Linked DNA regions of Homo sapiens: region 2 is linked to region 1. Evidence: fine-mapped expression QTL. A gene starts in region 1. The other region holds a variant in brackets. All regions are shown on one strand. Distances are between the middles of the regions. Region 1 holds the start of LSM11 (LSM11, U7 small nuclear RNA associated). Region 2 has its middle 150 kb from the start of LINC02227.

The links. PIP is the estimated chance that this variant, and not a neighbour inherited with it, causes the effect.
Region 2: its variant is fine-mapped to the expression of LSM11 in lymphoblastoid cells (GTEx, PIP 0.96).

Annotation. Positions count from the first base shown.
Region 1 is chr5:157,739,273-157,747,610 of GRCh38, reverse strand. It overlaps LSM11 (LSM11, U7 small nuclear RNA associated), which reads right to left and starts at 3,899. Exons shown (of 4, transcript NM_173491.4): 1 at 3,413-3,899. The coding sequence starts at 3,860. THG1L (tRNA-histidine guanylyltransferase 1 like) reads right to left here. Exons shown (of 6, transcript NM_017872.5): 6 at 6,162-8,290. The coding sequence ends at 8,129. RefSeq lists an enhancer at 3,036-3,536 and a silencer at 3,556-4,115.
Region 2 is chr5:158,552,148-158,560,485 of GRCh38, reverse strand. No RefSeq gene overlaps it. Among named protein-coding and RNA genes, the nearest start is that of LINC02227, 150 kb to the right of the region's middle. RefSeq lists enhancers at 168-217, 228-397. The variant G/A (reference allele first, on the strand shown) is at 3,778.

The DNA of each region.
Region 1 (8,338 bases):
ACAACAACAGGACTCAAACAAATTTTCAATCATGGTATCACGTCAGAGGCCCAATAAATCAGGTTTGTTTTGAAATCCTTCTCAGCAGGATGTGTGCGAGTAAAAGGACTGTGTAGGCTCCCTGCAGGAAAACTGAATTTGGAACTGGAGACAAGCCATTCACCTAGACAATGGTCTAGGAGCCAAACCCTGCATGTCATATGCATTTTGGATTGACCACACACACTTGTTCACACCGGCACAGGCTGCACACCAACACACCTGTAGCTAAAACAAAGTAATGATAACACTTTTTCTTACAGCTTTATAATGTCAAGACGTGAGCTTGAACACACCAGTTCATTTCACAGTGACAGATATACCTAGAAAAAGCTTGCTTGAAGCACAATTATAAACCAGAACCACCGTGGGCTAGGTATGGTGCTGCGATACTAAGGAGAAATATAGACACTAGAATTATGTGGAAAAGAGGATAATGCTCTTTAGTCTTGTCTTACCATCTCTATAGGCATGTCAATATTAAAAAGGAGGAAAAGCAATTGCATTCCACTTGCAAGTACAGCTTGTGTGTGAGTTCTTTGTTGGTATCAGTGATGGCTTAGGCTTAATGATGACGAAAAACCTTTCCTCCTATGCTTTTTTTCTTCTTTAGTATTCCCAGTATTGCAACAGCCTCCTATACTTTTATTATTACTTTTTTTTGAGACCTCGTATCACCTCTGTAGAGGTCTCTATGATGTCCCTATGATCTCGGCTCACTGCAGCTTCCACTTACAGGGTTCAAGCGATTCTCGTGCCTCATCCTCCTGAACAGCTGGAACTAGAGGCAGATGCTGCCATGCCCAACTAATTTTTGTATTTTTAGTAGAGACAGGGTTTCACCACGTTGGCCAGGCTGGTCTTGAACTCCTGGCCTCAAGTGTTCTGCCCGCCTCGGCCTCCCAAAGTGCTGGGATTACAGGTGTGAGCCACTGTGCCTGGCTACTTTTAAAATTTTATTACTGCAAGGAAAAGAATACAACTGCTCCACAAGGGAATTCAAAGAGATTCTATGACAGAGATACAAAGTGAAATATTTTACAGTTAAAACACCATTACACTTAATTTTGCACTCCTTGTTTTTTCATAAACATTCCACACTGTCCTCTCTGTGAATTTGGATGGGTAACTTGGATCTGAATTGATGAAATACATCATTTTAAAGTCAGCGACAAAATGTAGCTCCTCATGTATTCTTCATTATGTTTCACTGATGATATGACCTAACAAAGCTTCTTCTTGCTGTTACAGCCTGATGGAACTTACATTTTATGTGAATATTTTGCAAAGGATTATGCATTCTCAAATGCATAGGCATTTTTTTCCAGAAAGCATTTGTATATGTCCACAAATAGTATTATCTTACTGGTATCTATATTTTGATTTTCCTGAGCAACTGTATCCAATCAGAGTTTAGAGTAGGCATATATTTTTTTAAATTAAAACTGTGGCATACATATAAAACATACCTAGTTCTTTTTTTTCCCCCCTTCCAACTTTTGTTTTTGGATCAGGAGGTACACGAAAGGTTTGTTGCAGGTGTAAATCGTGTGTCACTGGGGTTTGGTGCACAAATTATTTTGTCACCCAGGTAGTGATCACAGTACCCAATAGGTAGTTTTGTGATTCTCACCCTCCTCCCACCCTTCACCCTCAAGTAGGAACTCTTTCTTGAATGAATCCAATCCTCACCCATGTTTCTGTTGTTTTCTTGCTTTCTGAAGGTCATCAACTCTGTGCGACGTCAATGCCTTTCTCTCATGTACACTCAACTGTCTGCAGTGCCATGGTGAAAATTTTCAGTATGTAGGGCATATTCTCTGAGATCTTGATTCCAGGGATATATACTTAATCATAAGAAGTTGACAAAGCTGGTCTTCACACACTGTCATACCATTACAGTAAAGTGCTCTATAGGGAAAGCTAAAACCACCCACCACATAGCAATACACAGGAATATTCCTTTCCCTTGACAATCTTGGTAGCAAAGCAATAACTGGTAAAATAGAAATAAATGTTGCAATGAGACTTGGAGTGCATTTCAACTACCTAATGGTGGCAAATTGCATAGGCAAATTAAGGTCCCCCAAACTGCTCTCATTTTGGGAACAAGCATACTGTCTTTGTGTTACAGCCAGGCAAGCAGGCCGGGGTAAATCCTAGCTTGGGCAGGGATGCTGTGGCATGGTAAGACATCCAACGAAGGCACACGGAACAGCACAGAGCGTTTCAGGATGTTCTCTCTTAATAAACAAATTTCTAGGAATGAAGCAAAACAGTCCCTTGCTTGGCACACCTCTCCATCCAAAAGACAGTGACTTAATAAGGTAACAATTTAATTATCAGGATACAGATGCTTTGAATGGCTAAGTAGGTCATTGTGTTCACAGGGCAGATGTCAGAACTGCTTGCCAGATGACAAAAGAGATAACCTTAGGCTGTTTTTATTCCATTTATACAAGACCTAACTCACACATTAGAGCCTCTGCTGTTTACAGCTTTACTCTAAGGATCTATGAGGAGGCTCCAAGAAATTCCCTTGTGCCATTTACACCTTTAGAACTTAAAATAACCTGCACATATGGTAATATGAGCCTGACAGACACAGTCCTGCACCCAGCCAGGCAGAGTGGCTGTAAAACAGCGTCTGTGTTTTAGTGGCATTCTGTGCCTGCTGCATTTCAGCACTTGTGACTTAGTAATGTGAACATATGTGTATCAAGACTCTGCAGCCCTTCTGCTTATCGCACTCGAGAAGGAGCTGTCAATGTACAGGGGTTATGGGATTATGCGCCTGTGCTATCTGAACAAATCTCCCCACACTCCATCCGATCATCCTCAAATCCCACTGACCAAATACTCTCCTTCCCCTAATATTGGCTGTGCGCTCCCCCACGTCTCCCGTTTTCCGCCCCACCTTACCTCTCACTGTGGTCTCTAAGACCTCTCATCACCTCTGTAGACGTCCCTATGATGTCCCCCAAACTCTGTAGCCCCGCCACCTCTCCAGGTCCTCCATCAATCCTGTAGACCCTCTCGGCAGGCTCATCACCTCTGTGACCCTTCCATGGGCCCCGATTACCGCTGAAGACCTTTCCCACGGCTTCTTATGACCACTACAGCCTTACCACTCTCCCTCTGTTGCTCCTACAGCCCCTTTTCTTACTCAGGGTGACCCTCCCCACGCCCTCATTACCCACATTACTCAAGCAGATCCACCCCATAGTCACTGATGATCCCCGCAAATTTTCACCAAGGCGCTCCCGCAATACGTGCAGACCCGCGCCCGGCCACCGCCGCCCCGCAGACGCCCCCTCGGCAGCCAGCTTCCGGACGGCGGCTGCCCCGCTTCCCGCCCGGCCCGCGGACTCACAGGGCATTCGCGTGAGCACGTTGCGTGGCGCCTTCCTGCTCCGACCCGGACCCCTCCGGCCCGCTCCTGCGGCCCCGTCCCCTTCCTCTTTGGCCACCATGAGACGGCGGAGGCGCTGGATGCGCTCGGGGTCCGGGGCGGGCGCGTCCGGGCGGCGACGAGTCCTGCCCGAGGGCCCGGGTGCGGCGGGAACCCCAGAGCCCGCGGCCGCGCCCCGAGCCCGCCCGCGCCCGCGCCCGCCGCCCCGGACTCCGGTCCTGAGGAAGCTCTCGTACTCCGCCACGTTGTTGAAGCAGGGGGCATTGGGGTAGGGAATGGGAGGCAGGCGGGGCGCGTACAGGGCCAGCAGCGGGTCGAAGCTGTCAGAGCTGACATCCAGCCGCGGGCTGGGCGGGCGCGCGGGGCTCCCGGCGCCAGCCGACCTCGCCCCCCGCTCCCGCTCCTCCATGTTTGAAAGGCCCGCAAGCCGAGGCCGATGGGAAGAAGGAACGAAGCCGCCAGAGGGCGGCACTGCGCAGCCGCGGCGCGGGGTTGCACTGCGCCGAAGCGGCCGCGGGAGGGCAGCACCTGTCCTCGTTCCACCCGGGCCGGGGGGCGTGGTACGCGGCTCCGACCAGCCCGCGCCTCGCACCGCCTCCTCCCATAGCTGACAGGTTAACGCTGTCGACTGCTGCTTGACCTGCTCCAGCGCAGTTTCCCCGTCTGTATCATTATCACTTAGGGTGTTTGTTAATACTCTGGGTTCCCCGGGAATGAGCTCGGGATCGCATCCTAGCTTGAGCTGGCAGGAAGCGTCTGGAGGAAGGCAATGAATGTCTCAGTTTGCTTCCATGCTGAGTACTACTGATAGGGTGGGAAGAATAGCCTATCTGGGCTCAAAGTATTTAGCGTGTTTCTCGTCTGAAATATGATATAAATAGCACCTACCTTATAGAACTGACCTCAGGATGGAGAGATACTGCCTACAGAGCTCATAATAGATGCATGTCAGCCAATACTGGGTGTCTGTCCTCCATTTCCTATACCCTGTGCATAAACAAATTTGTGCTTAGTATCAAAGAAAATTCATTATATCACTGTCTTTCTAAGCATTGCTAACCAATTGGAAGAAACGAAGATCCAGCTCTTGGAGGAAACTATGGAAAATTCCCAAGACCTGATCATACCACTTGCTACTTTATAGTCTCAGTTCGGCAAAATATTTTTTGGTTGATTTTAAAATGACAGTCTACTCTTCGCGGAAGGCCCAGATATAACCTTCTCATCCAGCAGAGCCAAAATGTTTCCACTCACCTACAGGCCACACATCACTTGCCCGTCACCACATTCTCAAACTGCCATCAACTAGTATTCTCTGTACTAGTTGCTTTGTGTACATTTCAGTTTCCTTAAGACTTAGGAAGTCCAAGAGAATACTGGAGAGTACCTTAGAGAGCAAGATGAAAATTAATATACAACTCTGAAATATACCTTGGGATGAATGCATACTACAGCGAAGACAAAACCATCAAGCAGGCCGGGCGCGGTGGCTCACGCCTGTAATCCCAGCACTTTGGGAGGCCGAGGCGGGTGGATCACGAGGTCAGGAGTTCAAGACCAGCCTGGCCAAGATGGTGAAACCCCGTCTCTACTAAAAATACAAAAAATTAGCCGGGCGTGGTGGCACGCGCCTGTAATCCCAGCTACGCTGGAGGCTGAGGCAGAGAATTGCTTAAACCTGGAGGGGCGGAGGTTGCAGTGAGCTGAGATCGCGCCACTGCACTCCAGCTGGGGTGACAGAGGGAGACTCCATCTCAAAAAAAAAAAAAAAACAAAAACCATCAAACAGTGGCTTCTAATTGGTAGCAGTACAGGTTTCTTTATGGCACAGGTTTTGAACCCAGCTTATCACTTTGTTCAAAACCCCCTGCCTGAATAAAAAACTCAAAGCTGCAGAATTGCTGGCAATTCAACAAATGAGCGCTCATCCCCACATCATATGGCAAAACTGAGTGATAGCCTTTATAGTGTCATTTAAGACCCACAGAAAGCACGTTTCTCTGGGTGGTTTTCTTGAAAATTTGTACTCTAATGCCTACTTGTATTTTGATATAAAATGCTGTCAACTTACCATTAAGTTAAAATTGCCAATCAACAGCTACATTATCTTACTTCCTTCCCACCCAGCCTATCACAGTATACCGAGGGCCTTGCTGCCGAAGCTGCTGTATATTGACAACCACACATATCAGAAGCCTTTGGGGCTAAAAATCAGATTGCTGGCTGGGCGTGATGGCTCACACCTGTAATCCCAGCACTTTGGGAGGCTGAAGCGGGCGGATCACGAGGTCAGCAGTTCGAGACCAGCCTGGCCAATGTAGTGAAAACCCCCGTCTCTACTAAAAATACAAAAATTAAGCCAGGCATGGTGGTGCGTGTCTGTAGTCCCAGCTACTCAGGAGGCTAAGGCAGGAGAATCACTTGAACCTGAGAGGCAGAGGTTGCAGTGAGCTGACAGAGCGAGACTCCATCTCAAAAAAAAAAAAAAAAAAAAAAAAGATTGTTGAGCTTCAAACCTTTCTGGGGGCTGGGAGGAGCCAAAAATGTGCATTTTAAACAAGCATTCCAAGTAATTTTTTTTTTTGCATCCAGAAGTTTGTGAACCACTGCTATGATGAGGGCATGTGTATCCTAGGCTACCCAGAGATATACACAAAAGTTAGATTTCATATAGTCTATTTGTCTAAGAAAAATAAATGAAAAAGCAGGCCAAAGGAGTTGACATCTTTATTTCTTTCCTCAAAGAGATTTTAGCAATTACCAAACAAGAACCGTATCTCCTCTTTCTGTGGAGTGAGAACAGGAAGGGAAAAAATGGCATCGACAGATGGGTTGTCAATTAGTGAGGGATGAGGCCAGCCATCACCCTTTCAAAAATACATTTTCTTCTTAGATGTAAATTCTGCAGTGCAAGACGAGGGACTGGGACACGGGCTGTCTCTTAATTTTTTTTTTTAAGGCAGTTTTGCTCTGTCACCCAGGCTGGAGTGCAGTGGCATGATTTCAGCTCACTGCAACCTCCACCTACCAGGTTCAAGCAATTATCCTGCTTCAGCCTTCTGAGTAGCTGGTATTGCAGGCACACGCCACCACGCCCAGCTAATTTTTCTATTTTTAGTACAGACTGGGTTTTGCCATGTTGGACGTGCTGGTCTTGGACTCCTGGCCTGAAGTGATCTACCTGCCTCAGCCCCCCAAAGTGCTGGGATTACAGGTGTGAGCCACCATGCCCAGCCATGTCTTTTTTTTTTTTTTTTGAGATGTAGTTTCGCTCGTTGCCCAGGCTGGAGTGCAATGGCACAATCTTGGCTCACCGCAACTTCCGCCTCCTGAGTTCAAATGATTCTCCTGCCTCAACCTCCCAAGTAGCTGGAATCACAGGCATGCACCACCATGCCCAGCTAATTTTTTGTATTTTTAGTAGAGACGGGGGTTTCTCCACGTTGGTCACGCTGGTCTCGAACTCCCGACCTCAGGTGATCTGCCTGCCTGGGCCTCCCAAGGTGCTGGGATTACAGACGTGAGCCACCGCACCCAGCCTCTTAATTCTTAATGGGGCCAAATAATCCTTTCCCTCCGAAATATAAAACCAGGACAAGAGAAAAATGTGAGTTCTCTCACCACCTATTCCCACTACCTTCCCCCTTCAGAGGCCAAGTTTGGCTGCATGTGATGATCCCTGCTGCTCTGTGCTGTTCCTCACCCATCTCCACTGACCCAACAGAAGGTGGCGCTATTAATATTATGCCTCCTCTGACACCTGCTACCTGTCGATTAGCAGAGGATGTTTACCCCTCTGCTCTTGAAATCAAATGTCATTTGTCTGATTACATAGAGGCTATGTGAGAATGTTTTTCAAGAAGTCTAATAGGAAAGTGACTTTTAAAACTGAAATGTCTTGAGTACATGGGGTAAATGTTTCTTCATCCTCATTCACGCATTCTTGTTTCTTTCTCTCATATATACACATAATTCTGTTTCTTCTTAGAAAGAGGTAAATGGCCTTGGCAACTATGCCCCTGGCTAGAAGATGATGATCATGCTGACAACTCCATTAAATCAATCCACAGAATGTGTACGCAAGGACACTGAAGCCACTACTCATTTGTTCAGCCAAAGTTGCCAACTTAGAGACTGGCACAAAGCCCCGAGTTTTCCCTGCAATTCCTGAATTCAGAGGCATCATGCAGGCATTAACCCATATTTATCTTGAGGTCTGCCAAAGACGAATGCAAGTAGATGGGTGGCAGAGGTGAGATTTTCAAAGTCAGTGGGTTTTCTGGTTAAGAACAGGTGGGCGAGAGTTTGGGCTCCTCTTCTCTCATAGATGAAAATAACTGACAGGTTTTTACAAGATTTATGTCACAATCTAAAAATGATTCATTCTCCAAGGCATGGAATAGTTCTTGCTTTATAAAAATAGTACTGCGATTAAAAAAAAAGCACTTCTGCCAAAGGAACCATGTTCCAACACCGCAAACAAGGTGTTCTGCTTAAACAGAGTAAGATACACCACCCCCATCCATCCCTTCCTTCCCTGTTCCCCTCCCAACTTGAGTTGTGTCATTCGCACCAGTGTCCTGGGTGGTAGGGATGCTACAGCCACCTAAGGCAAGGAGCCCTGGGAGGTGGGAGGGCTTGCATGGTTAAGCACACCAGAACTGAAGCGCAAAAGGGTCAGCTGTCTTCATCTAGAATCTCTGGATGTTCCTTCCAGAAAGCATCCCCGATGATATCGCAGTGCAAGGGCACTGGCTTTGTCCTGGTCCGGGTCACTGCCATCTTTTTTCCTTCCATTTCTGTTGGCAGCTTAATTTCTTTTGTCATCACTTCATCCACCTACAGGTAAAAATAAAGTAGTGACATTGTTAAGTCAGGAGTGGGTTT
Region 2 (8,338 bases), 810 kb before region 1:
CCGAAAAAGGAAATATGAGTCAAAGAGTGCCCTGAGGCTCAAACACTGTGGTTTTGAAAGTCAATACGCCTGTCGATAACAAGACTCACTGCCTCTCCAGGGACCGCCCACAGTGGTGTTGCTGAGTTTTGCAAGCCCTGCACAGAGAAGCTTCGTGGTGGTGGGAAGTGCTGTCCAAAAGAGGGGCTGTCTTACTGTCAGGCCAGAGCATCTGTGGCCTCCACAGCAAATGGGGATTTGAGCACGAGGCAAGCCAGACAGCCCCTGCCAACTCTTACACTGATGCAGTGGCTGGAAACACCTCCTCTCAACTTTTAGAGCGTTTTCACATCTTGCATGCTGGACAGTGAGTGGACCTACTGGACCAAAACTGCAAAGAAGAGAACATAAAATGGCTGCGACTTTCCCATAATGGTTTTCCCATAATGTAAAACCAAACAGACCTGGTTTTGAATCATGGCTCTGCCATTTCCATATTCTGTGATGATAGGCAAGTCCCTTAATTTCTCAACTTTTCCTTCTATAAGAAAGCAGCTTAACCAGCTACTTGGGAGGTTGAGGCAGGAGGATCGCTTGAACCCGGGAGGCAAAAGTTGCAGTGAGCCGAGATTGCACCGCTGCGCTCCAGCAAGCAGCCTGGGCAACAGAGCAGAGCAAGACTCTGTCTAAAAAAAAAAAAAGCAGAAGGCAGCTCTGGTGCCGGAATGCCTAGGTTCAAATTCAGGCTCTGGTACATCCTGTATATTCTCATATTCTCAGATAATTTACTCTCTTCTTTACGTGTAAAATGAAAGTGAGAATGAAATGAAATTTTAAAAATATATGAAGTTTTTCAAGTAGTAGCAAGCACTAAATAAATGTTAGCTGCTGTGTTTGGCGGGATGGGTTCCATGTAATCCTCCAATGTAAAATAAACCTTGGCATCTCAGTGGATTAGGACCATAAACATTTATTTCTCACTCATGCAGATGGAGAAATTTCTTCTATTTCAGGAGACTCGGAGACCTGGGATCTTTTCTTCTTCTGACATCACTATGTCAATCAACCCACAGCAGTTGGTTCCAGTTCATCACAGCAGAGAAAGAGATGGGGAAGGGGGTACCATGGCTCTTTTCTCTCTTGGCAATTCTTTTCATAGTCCATCAGCCACAGCAAGTTCAGGAACCCAAAGCCTACTGCACAGGAAACGGCCTTTATGGTAAATTAGGCTAACTGCCGAAATCACACTGCTGTAAAAGCATTAAATGGCAATGTGCATGGCATGCTTACACTGTGGCTGGCACATGGTTAGTGCCTGTTGTCTCTTGTGAGAGTACTACTTTTGATTCGGTGCCCGTCTGACATGATTCAATGCAATTCTGACTTGGATCAAACCACTGGTTGTTCCACACCACAGACTGTGGTGGGTCCCAGGTTCTCTTAGTAGTTAACGTTTGTCCCTCACCTTTATCAACCTTTCCCTACCTTTCTGTGCCCCATTTTCCTTTTCCAGTGCCTTCAGGTGGATCCACAACTCCTTGATGCTCCATTCTCTGGTGTTCCATCAAATGCCTGTTTCAAGGTTACATGATCATTTTTGATGTTCAAGTACTACTTTCATAGTATCTAGTGTGATGCTGCACTGATTCATTCAGGAAGCCTTAACCCGGTGCCTGCTTTGTGCCAGGACTGGAACCAGGCATTCACACTCACCGTCACCCTGGAGGCCAGTCAGTCTTATTGGCCTTAATTTTGGATATCAAGTGGAGGCTCAGAGAGGTTAAGAGACTGCCTCAAGTCACACAGCCTGGAAGAGGTGAGGTTGACTCAACACAGGGTGTCTCCCCATCCAGAGGCCTTTCCATTCTCCTTGGGAGGCCTCTGCAGTTGACTTTTGTTTGTTCTCTGGAAGTCATTACACATTTTGGCCTTTTCTAAGCCTTATTTATGCCTCTTTCCTTCAAAGGCTTAAACCTGAAAATTGATTGATTCAAGCTAAATCCTTGCAGAAGACAATGGCTTAACCTCTTATTTCTGTCTGGGATTTTTATGGCTCTTTAAAGAGGCACTGTCTCAGCCCAGGGTCTGCTGACTACTATGGTGGGTGTCAAGCATTCAGCCGGGCATGGTAGATGCCATTTGGAGGCAGGGGTAGATATTCGGAAGTGTCCCCAAATCATAGCACATAAGTAACAGATTTCTATTACAATAAAAAGGCTGACCTTTCCAGCCTCAGTGTCAGTGTCCAAAAAGTGAAGATTCAAATTGAGTTCACACCCAAAAAAGTATCACATGGATTCCCTCACACAAAAATTATTTTGTATCCTTTGTAGCTACAATTCACTGAATGCAGATTTCTATGCCAGGTATTCTAGAAATAATTGGGGTCTTTAATCCTTACAACCAGCATGTGATGTCCAGACTATTTATCTCCATTTTCCCAAGCAAGTGAGCACACTGAGGCTCAGAGAGGTTAAAGTGACTGGTTCAAGCTACACAGCAAATGTTAGAGTTGGAATTTGACCTAATTCCAAAATTCATCACTTTCTGTACTACCATATAACAACAGGATGCTATGAAAGGGAACTGACGTTAAAAGTATCCAAGGGGTGGGTTGCTTTCTCACGGAGTTTTTCATGGGCCTGGCATATCAATATGGCACCTCAGAGGCTGATGGAGAGACTGGGATGGCTAAAGCTAGCCAGGCAGGATTGTAGGGTCCCAATCTTCTTCTACCAGAGAAACTACTTCTGTACTTTCTGTAGTAGATTTGCACATAAATATTTTGTTTTAAAAATGTATTCTACTACATAACACAGAGAAAAAGAAGGTTAGAAACAAAAGAGAGAGAGAAATAAAAACTATAGTTTTAGTATCATGGCCTCGATTTTATGAACTAGACATTAAGGCCCAGGGAGTGAACAGATTCATCTGATCATATGAAGAGTTATAGGTGACAGACTGTGGTTTGGAGCAGGGCTTGGCAAACCTTTTCTGTAAAGGGCAAGATGGTAAATATTTTAGGCTTTGTGGACTTTGCAGGCTCTGTCACGACTACTCAACTCTGCCATTGTGGTAAGGAAACAGCCACAGACAATACGTAAAAAAAGAAACATGGTTGTATTCCAACAACTTTTATTTATAAAACAGGTTGAAGGCTGGATTTGACCCATGGGTGATAATTTGTGGAACTCTAGTTTGGAACAAAGGATCCTTGACTCTTTATTTGGCACTTTTTCTACAAAAGCAAAGCTGCCTCCTTAAGATAGATGAATTGTAAAGCCCTGTTATTTTCTTAATGTTAAGGGAAAATGAAAGATCAAAGTTGGAAAGCCAAGAGGGTTTTATTAAACAAAGCACAGGTAAACAAGAAGGAAGGCATTAGACATGTTAGTGTGGTTGGGGCTATAGCTCCTGGGATGAAGGATGAAGGGGAGGCATAAATAAGTGACTTGAAGAAAGGGCCCTGCCCTGATGAAGATATTGATATGCCTTGACCTAAGGTGTGTCACTAAAATTCAATCCTCTGCACCAAGGACTAAAATAAATTCATATATTTTGGAACTAATGAGGCATGATGGTTACACAACATTGTGAATGTACTAAATGCTACTGAATTGTACACTTTAAAGGCATTAATTTAATGTTATATGAATTTCACCTTAATAAAAAATTAAAAATATATATTAATAATTAAATTAAGCAATAAAGTTGGAAATGAAATGGTAAGGTTCTATCTCAGTGATCTTTCATCTTGCATCTTGCTTCAGGTCCTGGAACTTCTGAAAGTTACATTGA[G/A]TGGTTGAGTGAGTTGTCTTCACTGCCAGCTGGGAGCATGGTATGATTTTTTTCATGCTTTAGCCCATCAAAAGCCACATGGGCTGATTCTTGATTCCTAGATTTTTTTGGGCCTCAGTTTCCTTACCAGTAAAATGCATGTCATTGTTTGTACCATTGAGGATTGATGTGATCACTAAATGAGATTCTGATATAAACACTGTATTAATTACCTTGAACTGCTATAACAAAATACCATAGACTGGGTGATTTAAGCAGCATTTATTTCTCATGGTTCTAGAGGCTGGAAAGTTCAAGATAAAGCTGCTGTCAGATTTGGTTCCTGGTGAGAGTCTGCTTTCCGGCTGTAGATACCTGCGTTCCAGCTGTGTGCTCACATGGTCTTTCTTCAGTGCATGCACATCGGGGAGAGAGATCTCTGTCTTCCTCTTCCTATAAGAGCACTGATCCTTGCATGAAAGTCCCACCATAATGACTTAATGTTAACCATCTTACTTCCCAAAGGCTCCACTTCCAAGTACAATCATATTGGGGGTTAGGTCTTCAATATATAAATTTGGCAGGGGACATAAACATTCAGCCCATACAGTTAACATCTAGGAAGTGTTCATAAGTGTAGCCTTTACTCTCTTTATTTCTGAGAAGCCTAGGGTGTTTATTCCTTTACTTATTCATTCATCACTTACTTAGCTTCTATTATGTTCCAGGCAGCATAACTATGCTCATTTTCTATTACTGTATAACAAACTACCCTCGAAATTTAATAACTTAAAACAACAGACATTTATTATCCCACAATTCCTATGGGTCATGAATTCAAGGAATTAGCTGGATGGTTTTGCCTTAGGATCCCTAAAGAGGTTGCCATTAATATGTGGACTCTGGCTGCAGTCATCTGAAAGCTTGACTGGGGCTGATGGAACTACTTCCAAGATGGTTCATTCACATGGCTATTGGCAAAAGATCTTAGCTTCTTGCCAAATGGGGCTCTCTATACAGTGTCAGTATGAATTAACCACTGGTTTCCCCTAAAGCAAGGAGAGAGAGAGACAGAGAGAGAGAGAGAGAGAGAGAGAGAGAGAGAGAAAACCTAGTCTCCAAGCTCCTATTTTATTTGTCCATCACTGAGACAAGTTTGCACCCAGGGGAAGGTATACATAAAAGCATGAATGCCAGGAGGTGGAATCCTTGGAGGGCATTTTGAAGACTGGCTGACACAGTGCCTTAGTAAGAGTTTTGGGGATATAGCCATGAGCTAAAGGGCCATCTAACTTATAGTCTAAGAGGAGAGACAGACATATATAAAATCATTATGTACCTAAATACATACCAACCAACTAGGCTAAGACAATGAAGAAAAGGTACAGTATGTATGAGAGACATTTAGCAGGAGACCTTAGGAGGAAGTGGAAGGGACAGGGATGCATTTGTGAGGAAGTTACATTTCAGTTGAAACTCAAAGCATGAGTGGTAGTTAACATTAGTTAAAATTATGGTGGTTGCCTCAACATGTTAAACATAGTTTCCTTATCACCTAGCAGTTCTATCTTTAGGTATAAACCCAAGATAAATAAACACATACATCCATACAAAAGCTTGTACATGAATGCCCATAGCGGCATTGTTCATAATAGTCAAAAAATGAAAGTAACTCAAATGTCCATCAACTTGTGAATGGATAAACTAAATGTGGTATATCCATACAATAGGATATTACGTGATGACTAAGAAAAAAACACTGATCCACGGTACAACATGGATGAACCTTGAAAACATTATGATAAGTAAAAGAAGTCATAAACAAAATACGACATATTGGATAATCCTATTTGTTTGAATGTCTGCAATAGGAGACAGAAGAGAGATGCAAAGTAGATTAATGATTTCCTAGGGTTGAGGGAAAATGGAAAGTGAAAGCTTATAGGTAAAAGGGTTTTTTAAAGGGTGATAAAAACGTTTTGAAATAGATGTAATGATGCTTGCACCACTCTATGAATATGCTTGAAACCACTGAATAGTCCACTTTAAGTGGGTGAATTGTGTGTATGTGAATTTTTTTCTTAATAATGAGGTTATAAAAGAGGATGGCTGGAAAAGCTTTGCAGCAGAAGGAACAACTTGAAGTGGAAGAGAATATGGTGTGCAGGAGAAATGGAAAGAAAGTCAATGTGTCTGCAGCACAGAGTAGAGGAGAGAAGTAGTGTTACATGAGGTGGAAACCAGACCCTGCAGGCTTTAGTGACCCAATCAAGGAAGCTGCTCTTAATCGTGAGGGCTATGAGAAGCCACTGAAGGTTTTTAAGCATGAATTTGCCAGATCATATTTGAGGTTTTCAAATTTAATATCATAAATGCCCTATAAAATAAAGCTAATATTTATATCATGAGGTGATTAACGGAGCAGGCAGAATAGTGAAAATCGTATTTTTTATCATTTTCCCTAGAGGAGTGCAGACACTGGAGTTTTGAGATTGTGCTTGAACCGTTAATCGTTAGAAGCAGCATACTTGGTTCACATGCTTTTCATCCACCCTCTGGTGTCCTACATGACTTCATATTGCTCAATGAGGGGACAGGCTAGATGTGGCCACCCTCAGGTGCTGGCCCCATGTTCTCATGTTGCACAGTTTTTGGGATTCTGGGCTTCACCGAGCTCTTTATCCTTGTCCAGATGGCAGAGCAGAGGAAATATCTGGTAAAATGTTAATTCCACCTCATTTAATGCAGCTTACATAGGTGTGGTGTAGTCGAGGCCTCTACAGGAAAAGCTGATTTCAAGTTCTGGCACAAGGATTAGCTGATTCACAAAAGATGTGAGTCTCCGTTTCTTCCCTGCACATCTGTCCTGTCTGCTTTTAATTTGGAAGCACCAGTTTTAATTTAGCGGCAGGACTGTAAACTCCATTTCTGTGAATACAGAATGACATACTTTGTGGAACGGGGGCCTCTGGCCAAGATCTGACTCCTAAGTAATTGATGGCTAGTGACTGGCTGAGAAATGCTCAAATGCAAACACTTCCCATGGCAAAAACCCTGTCGTATCAGCTGGATTACAAACGAGCCTTGCTGGGCTGCTGCCCATTGAAATATAGGCCATGTCTTTAACCACAGTCTCCAAAACCTGGAGGGAGCCTCCAGTTCATTCTAAACATCGATGATCTTTCCAGTCCACAGGTTTCCTTTGTCCTCAGACTTTGTCTGGAGCCTGTGGCCCAATGCACAGATTTCTTCATATTTGGAAGCCAACCATATCGGGAAGGAGGCTTCAGCATTAAGGGTTGTTTTGTTCTGGTGAAAAGGACACTCTTTTCATCACATTTAAAAACCAATTTTTTAAAATCTCACTCATATCCAATATTTTGTGTGTGTGAGAGAGAAAACACAGGCCTAAAGTTACATCACCCTTGTGGTTTGAGAAATCTTTTTCACAATATGTAGACTGTTTTTGGGGCTGGGATTTTTGGAGAAGGGGGAAAAATAGTGGGGCAAGAAGGACAGAGATATGAGACAGAAAATTAAGTCTTTCTGTAAACAAGAAAGAATGGATAAGCAAAGGGAATAAAATGGACAAAACTTCCATGAGTCTGACATCTTCTAGATACAGAGATAGCCGATACAAAATCCCATGATGCCTTTAAAAAATTAATTTAAGTCCACCAGTCTTACATCACCATTGAATCCCTATCACCTGTCATGGTGCCTAGCATATAGTAAGTTTTGATACATATTTTTAAATACATGAATGAGGAAATAAGTAATTATTGCATGCTTACCGTATGCCCAGCACTGCTGTACTCAAAGGGCATGGGAAACATAACTAATGCCACAGGGAAACTTATGGGGAGTCCAGTGTAGAATAATGGTAGGAGGCACAGAGCCCGGAGTTAGCTAGTCCTGGATCTGGGTTTGAGCCCTGCCTCTAACACTTACCAGCTGTGTGGCCTGGGGGAAAATTATTTAAGCTAATTGTTAGTTTCCTTTAATTGGAATGTGGACAATAATAGGACCTATTTCATGTGGTTGTTGGGAGGATTACTTGTGGTAAAGGTGTAAGGTGCTTGTGCTAGAACATGGGAAATACTCAGTAATGGTAACTATTATATAATTTGGAAATGGTACATGGCCGCCTTATGCAATAGTTCTTGCTGTGAGTCTCTCCAAAATGTCCTTGAACTCCCACCTTCGTTTTACATACAATTGCTTGCCAATTCCTTTCTCAAGACATAGTGAGGCCAACATTATTCACTCCCGTTGGTCTTGCTTAAGTGTGCAGAGTCCTTTTGTCTTGGAACTAATGTGGATTTTGTAAAAAATCATTTCTCCATGGAGGACAGTGGCACTCAGCTCCAGTACTAACAAGAGAACATCCCAGATGGTTTGCAAAGTATTTTAGTTTTTGCCAAACATGTTTCCTGCTAATTTGAAATTCCCTCTGTGTTTTTAAGTGAAATGTAATCCACGTGTTCCTGGTCAAGTAACTACTGGGGAAGGAAGTGGGAAAGAATCAGGGAGAATCCCAACATCAGCTCTTAAAGAGATGGCAGCATCTGAGGTGTGTGTG